Homo sapiens: one gene and its partner. The protein of the gene in region 1 purifies or fractionates together with the protein of each later gene. This does not show direct contact. Each region holds a gene or a part of one and is shown in the gene's direction. Other genes may lie near its edges.

Evidence for each region. The genes of interacting proteins can lie anywhere in the genome.
Region 2: the proteins of LOXL1 (region 1) and P4HA2 purify together in Homo sapiens (co-immunoprecipitation; one large-scale study listed by IntAct). This does not show direct contact.

The regions. Positions count from the first base shown.
Region 1 is NC_000015.10:73,942,872-73,947,783, forward strand, and holds part of LOXL1 (lysyl oxidase homolog 1 preproprotein), read left to right. Parts: coding exon 1-91; intron 92-3,545; coding exon 3,546-3,683; intron 3,684-4,195; coding exon 4,196-4,352; intron 4,353-4,912. UniProt on the Homo sapiens protein: Catalyzes the oxidative deamination of lysine and hydroxylysine residues in collagen and elastin, resulting in the formation of covalent cross-linkages, and the stabilization of collagen and elastin fibers.
Region 2 is NC_000005.10:132,220,456-132,225,367, reverse strand, and holds part of P4HA2 (prolyl 4-hydroxylase subunit alpha-2 isoform 2 precursor), read left to right. Parts: intron 1-4,912. UniProt on the Homo sapiens protein: Catalyzes the post-translational formation of 4-hydroxyproline in -Xaa-Pro-Gly- sequences in collagens and other proteins.

The DNA.
Region 1 (4,912 bases):
CAGACCCCAACTATGTGCAAGCATCCACTTATGTGCAGAGAGCCCACCTGTACTCCCTGCGCTGTGCTGCGGAGGAGAAGTGTCTGGCCAGGTAAGGAGCTGAGGCAGAAGTGTAGAGTGTTGGGATAGTCCCCGGGAGTCACCCAGAACCCAGCCTAGCTGTGGCTGCCAGCTAGGCTGTCTGCAAGCTGATGACCCTGGCCAAGTGCCCCAGCCTCCCAGGACCCTGACCGTTTCATCAGTGAGCCTTGCCTGCCCCGAGGGAGTCAGGAGGGGAGGGGAGCAAGCGGGGGCCCAGCATTTCTGTATACTGTACCTCACTATACAAGGAACTCCACTTTTACTGTGGCACTTCATCTTTATATGAGCCCTGAAGGCATGGGTTACCCCCTCAGGAAACTGAGGAGCAATGAAAGGAACTCAAACCTTTTGGATCTGAGCTGTTTAATGAGAAGGTTCCTTTTGGGAGCCCAGGCTTCCAGTGGTCATACAGGGACCCAAGGAAGTCCTATTGGGTGGATGTACCTGCAGGATAGAGCCCAGGAGTATGGAGCCATGTCCACAGAGGACAGTTGTGGCTTTGGCTGGTCCAGGCTGCCTCTGCCTAGTCACAGCAGGGGCAGTGAGCCCGGGGGACAAAGAAGTTTCAGTTATATGTTGCACTGGAAAGAGGGGAAGGAGACCAGTTTCCATGAACCTAGAAGGTGAGCACAGCTGGCTCGCCATTATTCATGGGTGATCCTGCCTCTCGCAGTGTTTGCTTCTAATTTATAAGCAGTTCATATTCTGCTGGAACATAGGTGCTTTGCGGATACCTCCCTGGGCCAAAATAATTAGTTAAGATTATGTTATCTGCTTCTTTTGTTAATATCCCTTTATGTTGAAAGCACCTATTTTTCTTAATTACCTGCTTTTTGGACATTTGAACTCTCTGTTTAGTTTGACTTTTTACTATCTAGGAAACTCTTTAGAATCTCAACATTTTCTCATTTCTAGAACTTCTAGTTCACTGCCACTCTAAGTAGCTGATCATAAACCCTTATCTGTCTGTAACAAGATAAAGAGCTTGAACTAGAATGTAACTCAACTCACTCCTTCATTGAGAAAGTCTTGCTTTAAAAAAAGAAAAAGTATCCGCTGAACTAAGCAGAGTGATTAGGAATGTTGTCGATGTACATTCTGGTGCAAGTTCCCAATCCCATCCCAGACTGGCATCAGTGTGGGAACTGCCCCTGGTCCAGGGACCGCAGGCTGAGTACCACTCAGCCAGCCTGTCTGGGCAGTTCTTGTCTTGTTTCAGTTGTCTTGGGGAAGAGAGCATAATGGTCCTGCTGGAATTCCTCCAGCAATGAGGAACTTACAGCCTCCATGACAGCCCTTCCAGTCTTAAGAGAATTAGTCAAAGTCAAACTATTAACATCACTGCCTCTTCATGAAGGATCCTGAGTGCCCGGACCTGCGCTCCCAGCTGGGGAGAGGAGGCAGCCTGTCCTCTGTCCTGGAGGGTCTCCTGGTACAGCTGGAGAGAACAGCCCTCACCTGTACCCCAGTGACAGAACCAAGACACGAGTGGGAAAAGAGCCAGAAGGACTGGTTCACAGGCCAGGGCTGCTGGAGGTCAGAGGAGGGAGGGATCAGCAAGGGCTGAGGCCTCAGAGGAGGTGGGCGTGGGAGTTCAGACCTGGAGAATCCTGCAAAACTGGAGCCCTGGGGCAGGAGGGCCCTCTGAGATCATTTCAAGTATGGGCCGCAGGCTGGTGCCAGTTCACATGCTGCAGGCAGAACCCAGAGAAGAAAAGGGACCAATTCCAAGTCTCACCACCAGTTTGTGGCCAAGCTGGGCCTAGAACCTAGACCCTTATGGTTTCCCACGGTGTGCTGAGCCGAACAGAAGGGCAGGATTTAACTGAACAGAGGGAAGGAGGATGTTTTGTTTCAACCCAGACATAGACAGATTCCAAGCCTCCCCCAGACAAGGCTGAGGGCCTTTCATCCTGGCAGACAGTCTGAGCCGCCTGTTGTCCAGACATTCTCTCAAAGAGAGCGCTAATCCCTACGACTGGCCACCGCTCCCCTCTGGCCTTAGGATCGGACCTTAATGAGTGCCAGGGAAGAGCCCCTGAGGCCAACAGAGTTAGCTGTCAGCCGTCAGCTAAAGAGGGGAGGGGCCTTCAGCCACCCCTTCCTGTTCCTACCACACATGTGTGTGCATGTGTGTGTATGTGTGCATGTGTGTGTGTCTCCCCTCACTGCAGCCCCTCGTTCCTCTTTCCACCCTTTTCCTTTTGTCACAAGGCCTACCTCAGTTGGAAATCTGGAGTCAGCAGGTGACTTGCGAGCAGGCAATTCATACCAGACCCATGTTCCCTGAATGGAAAAGGGCAGGTTGCCAGCCTGAAGCCATGCAATCAGGGAGAGGTGGTCTGGACCCAGTGCAAGATGTAGATGGTATCGGGCTGTGCTGCAGTCAGTGCTGTTAGAGCTCACAGGCAATCCGGATCCTCTATGTAGAGCAATCAGGGCAGACTTCCTGGAGGAGGGGACTTTTGAGTTGACCCTAGGATACTGGGTGAGTTTTGGAATTCTGGGTCAAGCAAACAGCATGGGCAAAAGTATGGGTCAGGGAAAAAGTTCAGCCTGTTTGGAAAATAGGCTTTGAAGCAGGAACCCAGGGTGTGTGGGGGAGTGGAAGGGCAGATGGGACTAGAAAAGTGAAGAGGCTTTGACCAGAGGACTTCACGTCTGTTTTTCAGGCCCACACCCAAGACATGGCATACTTTGGTCAACAATTAGGGCTCTGTCTTGTTGTCAGAGACTTATCAGAATCTCCTGGATAGGACTTTTTTTTTTCTTTTTTTTAGAAAGGGGGTCTCACTCTGTTGCCCAGACTGGAGTGCAGCAGCACAATTATAGCTCATTGCAGCCTCAAATTCCTGGGCTCAAGGGATCAGTCTCCAAGTAGCTGGGACTACAGGCATAAGCCACCTTACCTGGCTAATTTTTTAATTTTTTAAAAATTTCTTTAATTAAATTAATTTTTTAAATTTTAATTTCTCACTATGTTGCCCAGGCTGGTCTCAAACTATGGGCCTCAAGTGATCCTCCTGCCTCGACCTCCAAAAAGCTCTGTAATTACAGGCATGAGCCAAAGTGCCTGGCCCCCGCAATAGGGCTGTTTTTCAGTGGCCCTTCAGAGATTGCTATGTGCTCCTGCACCTAGGGGCTGACCCCAGCTGAGTCACCTGCAGGTATCAGGGACACTGCCATGCTTGGTACCGCTTTAGAAAGATGCTGTTGGCAGCTGGCGGCCACATGGTGGAGGCCAGAAAGGAGGGGACAGCCAGGATTTCACGGGGTCAGAAGACAGAGGAAGAGGCCTGAGCCTCCGCCACAGTTCGAGGAGACAGAGGAGAAGATCTTCAGGGACAAGGAGTGGGGCTGCAGAACCAGTGGCCAAGGGCTGGGGGTGGGGCTGAGGGGGCCCATGCTGGGTTCTGGTGTCACTGTGCCCCAACCCCCCCTCATCTCCCCCGCCGTCCCTGCAGCACAGCCTATGCCCCTGAGGCCACCGACTACGATGTGCGGGTGCTACTGCGCTTCCCCCAGCGCGTGAAGAACCAGGGCACAGCAGACTTCCTCCCCAACCGGCCACGGCACACCTGGGAGTGGCACAGCTGCCACCAGTGAGTGGGGAGGGGCTGGGCCCGTCCTCTTCCACTTCTCCTCTGGGCCAGGGACCTTGGTGCCTGAGCTCCCCTCCCACCATGAGCACTCTGGGAGACACAGATACTGGATTAGAGGGCCCGGGGAGGTGTTACCTGCCAACTCTTTTCACTGGGGCAAGTGTTTCTCAGAGAAGCCTTAGCCAAAGCTAGGCTGGAAGATGGATATAGAAGGATTGGTCTCAATCAGGGATGGAAATGTCTAGAATACAGGGCATTGCCCAGTGAGGCCATTACAGGTGGGAGCCCAAAAAGGAAGTGAGGGGTCTAGAGCATGTGCTGTCCTGGAGTGACCCAGCTAGGTGGGGAGCACAGAGGGGCCACCCCGCAGTACTCAGGAGACAGGAGAACCTAGACCAGCCAGGAGGCTGTGCCACAGCAGGGTCACCTGAGCCCATCTCAGGATGGGGACAGGATGAGAGGCCCAGGGAAGACTAGGCCCTCTTCTTTCTCCTTCTCTCCTCTGCCCCTAGGCATTACCACAGCATGGACGAGTTCAGCCACTACGACCTACTGGATGCAGCCACAGGCAAGAAGGTGGCCGAGGGCCACAAGGCCAGTTTCTGCCTGGAGGACAGCACCTGTGACTTCGGCAACCTCAAGCGCTATGCATGCACCTCTCATACCCAGGTTGGGCTGGAGAGATGGGGTTTGGGGCATGGGAGGATAAGGAGTTGGGGAGGCAAAGAGCGAGGCCCGCTGAGGCCCGGCAAGTGCCAAGGCTTCTGGCCACTCAGCTCTGCTCACAGTGAAGGTCTTCTCACCAGTCCTCAGGCTGCCACACTGCCCTGCAGGGACTGTTCCCTCCCTGCCCCAGCCCCTTTCCCATGTTATTCCAGGTGATCTGCTCGTGGAGAGAAGGAAACATCGCAACAGTCTGGAGAGCAACACGTCCTATTGGCCTGTTCACCCACCCATATCCCTCTTTCCATCAGCCACCCTAAATATCCACAAACTGTCCATCTGTCCTGTCTCTTTTTATCCATTCTGCCATCCATCTCGTCCCTCCCACCTGGCTATTAGATATCTGTCTTTCCTCTGGTCCATCTAGCCAGTGGCTTTAGGAAGGTGTGGACCCACCCTGAGCAGTTGCCCTGGGCCAGGGTCAGGGGAGAAACCCAGGGGAAGGTGGGCCAGAAACTCCTGAAGGTGGGCGTGGGGTGGCTCTGGGAAACAAGCAGCATCACAGC
Region 2 (4,912 bases), on another chromosome or scaffold:
ACGCTGGCTGATAGTGTGCAGAGGGCTAGGAGGTGTGTCCCTGGCTCCTGGGGTCTGTCAAGAGTTTACTATTATGCAGATGGAAGTTGGCAGGAAAAGCTGTGATGCAAGTACATGCAAGCCCAGCAGAGTGCTGGAGTGAGAGTTAAACTTCGGGAAAGTTGCTCACATCTAGCAATTTGGACATTTGAAGTTCCTTAGGGTAAGACATCAGCCTGTCCTAGAGCAAAGAGGGCTGGAAGGTCCTGTGGTCTGTGGGCTTTGTGTTACGGACATGGAATGAGAGATAGAAAGACAGTTTTTTTTTTTTTTTTTTTTCCTCAGAGCAGAGGAGAATGAAAAGTCTGGATGATTTACTGGAGCCCTAGAAGAGAGTTCTTGTTCAGCTGGTGTCATTGCAGGGCAGAGGATTAAGTGTTTGGGTAGAGTGCTCTCCAGCTCAGATGGAATCTATCTGAGCCTGGTAACAGGCCAGCATCTGCTCTGGACCTTTCAGGAAGTGCTTGCTTAGAGTGTGGCCTGTTTTGTACCTGGCACTCTGAGGGCCAGGGTGTAGTGGAGATCCTCAGGCCTGGGTACTTGTAGGAGCCTGGAATGAGCAGGTCAGAGGCATATAAGTACATGAGTTCCTAGAGTATTGGTCCAATCCCCCGCCTTTTGCTAGAGAACATTGCTTGATGAGCTTTAGAGCCAGTGATTGACCAGTTCCAGGGTTATCCCCTGATGATCAATGTACTACATTATACCTGATTCCAGTCTCTCCTGAATTAAATGTTTCATTTCTTGTGGTGCTCCTGGAACATGGAGATCGCCCAATTTCTGCCTTGTTTGCATCTTCACTGTTCCCTAGTCTGGACCTTCTTTCTCACCCAGGAATCAGCTGACTTGGGCTGGGCAGCTGGCTGCCTCAGGTCCACTGATGTTTCTCTGGTGCCCTTGGTACTAATGATTGACATAAATTATGCCTAGTGCAGGGCTACCTGCCAACATCTGTCATCACATTCAGTCCTCCAACAGCCCTATGAGATATAGGTCCTAGTATTGTCTCTATTATATACATGGGGAAACTGAGGAATCCTATAACTTGTCCAAGGTCACAAAGCCGGGAAGTGGTATAGAATTGGGGTTTAACTCTTAGTATGTCTGACCCTAGGGCAGGTGTGCCTGTCCATTTGACTGTACTGCCTTGCCCTGAGCTGGACTGGCTGGTTATTTGTGAGTGCTGTCATGTCTAAGGTAGGAGTGACTGCCCATCTGAACTTAAGGGACCATGTTGCTGTTTTCTGGGTCCATGTTGCGTTCCTCCCTCTGGTGAGATCCAGCCAGGCGTGTCATGGACCTGCTTTATGAACCTTTGGTGTAACCCATGATAAAGTCCTTAACCTGGGCAGGCATGTTCTTCCTGGGCAAAGTGTGGCTTCCCTGTTTGGGAGTCCATTGCACTTTAAGGTAACAGATTATTGAGTAGGACTGGATAGCTGCAATATCTAGCAGAGTGTGTTTTGGGTTTGACTCTTGGTTCTGTCATTGATTTGCTGTCAGATGTCAGATATGTAGGAAACCTTCTCTCAGCCTCAGCTGTTTGTCATTTGTATCTATCTTATATCTGAAATGGAGGTAGTTATCTAGCTTAGAAGGTTTGGGTGAGAATTAGATAGTAGAAATGAAAGATTTTTGGAAACAAATAGTGCTTATCTCAGACTATGTTCCCAGGAAACAGCCTGAGACAGAGCTTAAGTACTTAATGCTTTATTGGAAGGTGTAATTGCAGGGCAGCCAGGGTGAGGGAAAACAAAAGTGAGGTGCAGGCCTGTGCGATGGCTCATGCCTATAATCCCAGCACTTTGGGAGGTCGAGATGGATGGATTGCCTGAGGTCAGGAGTTTAAGACCAGCTGGCCAATATGGTGAAACCCCATCTCTACTAAAAATACAAAAATTAGCTGGGCATGGTGGCACACACCTGTAGTCCAAGCTACTCAGGAGGCTGAGGCAGGAGAATCCCTTGAACCTGGGAAGTGGAGGTTGCATTGAGCCAATATTGTGCCACTGCACTCCAGCCTGGGCGACAGAGCGAGACTGTCTCAAAAAAACAAAAGAAAAAAGTGAGGTATAAAGGAGGATGGGAGGTGGTGTTTTAGCAAGCTGGCTACTCTGCACAGAGATGTACTTGGTTACCCTATGAGGGCCCTTTGGTAGCCACTGGGGAGGCCAGTCTGGTACTTCAACAGAGTCTGGAGATAGTGAGAGGAGCCAGAGATTCTGGCGTGGGCCTGGATAGTCTCCTCCACTGGGCTGAGGCAAAGTAAATACCCTGGGACCTGGGAGATGGGTGAGACCAAGAGGTTGCAAGGTGGGACGTAAGATGCATCCAATATAGTGGTATATGGATTTTATCCTCAAGTGTAGTTCCCTTTTGTGGGTTAGTCTCATCCAGACTGCCAAGTCTCTGCCAAGACTATGACTGAAAACCCAACTTGGCTTTTGCATGTCAGTTTTAACAGCCTTCTCTGCTACTTCATTGTCTAGTTACTGAAGCAAGACTTTGTGGTGGTGATGGTACCCAGGTGGGGAAGTGGAAGTCAACCACTATTCATGTACCAGACTGAGAAAGTATGTGGATAGATACAGATAAACATCTTGGCTTTATTAGGTTCTTCGTGAAGGAGAATATTTTTTCACATAAAGTAGTTGTTGAAGATACGAAACCTGGCATGGTGAGATGAGGCTAGAGAGGGCAGTAGGGCCTGGTCACACACTCAAAAGGACCCTTTGGGCTAAAGAGTTTGAACTTTATCTTGACGGCAGTAGAGAGCCAAAGGAGGGCTTTGATAAACCATGCTGGCTACTTTGTAGAGCAGAGGTGGGAGGAAGGCCAGATGACATGTGGAGAGGCCAGTGTAGTGGGGGCCAGGATGCCTGTAGGGGAAGTTAGGGGTGGCTCAGATCAGGGTGATGACTGAGGCTAAGGAGAGTAGGGTACCCCCCATACTTGCCTAGGGTGCCGTGGCAGCAGCTTATAGGCCTGAATGGACATCCATGTGCTTTGGTGGCAGGGTCTCCTGGAGCCTCTGGATCCTCTTAGGCTGAACACACAGGTCCTTTCAGCCCTGTTATCCTAGAGTTGGAGGCAGCGGGGAGCCGTGTCCAGTTAGGTTTTCCCCCTTCACAGAAGGCAGGCAGGTTCTTGTTCAGTGCCAAGCAAGACCAGTTTGTTCTCAGCAAGCTCATGTTCTGTCTCTAGGCTGTTAAATACATTGTTAAAACTCAGGCTGTTGCATTTGGGTTGCAGCTGGGAGCTTGGCAGAGATTCTGCCTGATGAGGTAAGGAGAGAAGCTAAGGACGCTGCTGGTTTGCAGCTGGAAACATCTTTTCATGGCCATTTGGCCAGATTGTAAATGTCTTTTCCAAAGTTCAGGTTTGGTGGGACCTCTGGTTGTATGTCTTGGAATTGCCCTGTGTTTAGAAACAGTGCCAGTCGCCTGATGGGTGAATCACTGTTGCTGGGATGTTGGCAGGTTTTGCAGGACTTTCCTGTGGGGGTCCAAACACTAGGGCTGGCAGGGCCCGTTTGGAGTCTGTTTGAGAAGGGCCTGCTTTGTTTTCTTTACATTTTAAGCATATGATAAAATAATTTTAAAAATTGCTATAGAATTTCTTGTAGAAAGATTAGAGAAACAAGCATAAAAATAAAAAGAAATTATTTCACCAAGATATAGCCAGATGTATGACTCTTTTCTTGCATCTCTCTATATACACATATACATTAATTTTTCCTTACAAAAATGGAATTATAGAGTGCATATTATTGGGGCCCACTTTTCTCACTTAACAGTATGCTTAGATCTCTTCATGTTGATATATAGTATTCATTTTTAATATACTCCATAAAAACTCATTGTATAGAAGAAATGTAAAATCTTCTATTGTTGTAGTTTCCTAATTTGAACAAGTCTGTGGTGAAGTATTTTTTGTTGTGTTCCTGGTATGGGACAGACATTGTTCTAAACTCTGGGGATGCAGCACAGATAAAACTCAGTATTGGTTTTCTGCTCAAGATGTCACTTTGTTTTTCATAAAAGTGGGTTTGACATTGTTCACCTCCAGACTTATTCCAGTTGGATTCTGAGGGTTTCTGGGAGGGCTTTTAGCAGCACTGGACACTTTGTAGGGGCACTCAGCAGGTACACATACTTTCACCTACTCTGTCTTAAGCAAGCTGTGGGCATAGTTATGAGATGGGTTGGAGGTTGGCCTTTCCCACATTGTGGGGCACAGTCCCTCTCGGATGCTGCCTCCTCCCAATCTGACTCTAATTAGAGGACTTTTTGTACAGAGCCTTTTGAGTTAAGGGGCCCAGGCTTGGGAGAAATGGGGTAGGGCTCCAGAGTACCCCTGCCAGAGATGTCAGTGTTGATGTGGTAGTCTGGGAGCTGCTGCTTGGAGGTGCCCAGCTCTCCAGGCTAGCAGAGTTAGTTATCCCCTTCTCCCACCAGAGCAAGACTTTGCAGGCTCTTGGTAGGTAAGTCATCTGTAATTACCTGTGATTCTTTGAGGCTCTGCCCAAACCCCATCTGTGATTCTTTGAGGCTCTGCCCAAACCCTATCTGTGATTCTTTGAGGCTCTGCCTCCAGGCTGAGATTCAAGAATGGGCTCAGTCTAAGCCAGATCGCACATTCCAGAGAAATCACAGCTGGTATTCATGTAATGAAGAAACCTGGCTTTCCCTGAGTGTTGTGAGGTATGAACCGTAGATGATAGGAGCAGAATGATTTGAAAGGAATGGACAGACTTCCTCCCTGGAATTTATCTGGCCTCTAAAAAGGTATGCAACTGCAACTGGAGACACACCTGGGTAGAGATGCTGGGTTCCCCACTTCCAACCATGTCTGGTTTGGAACCTGCCTGGGC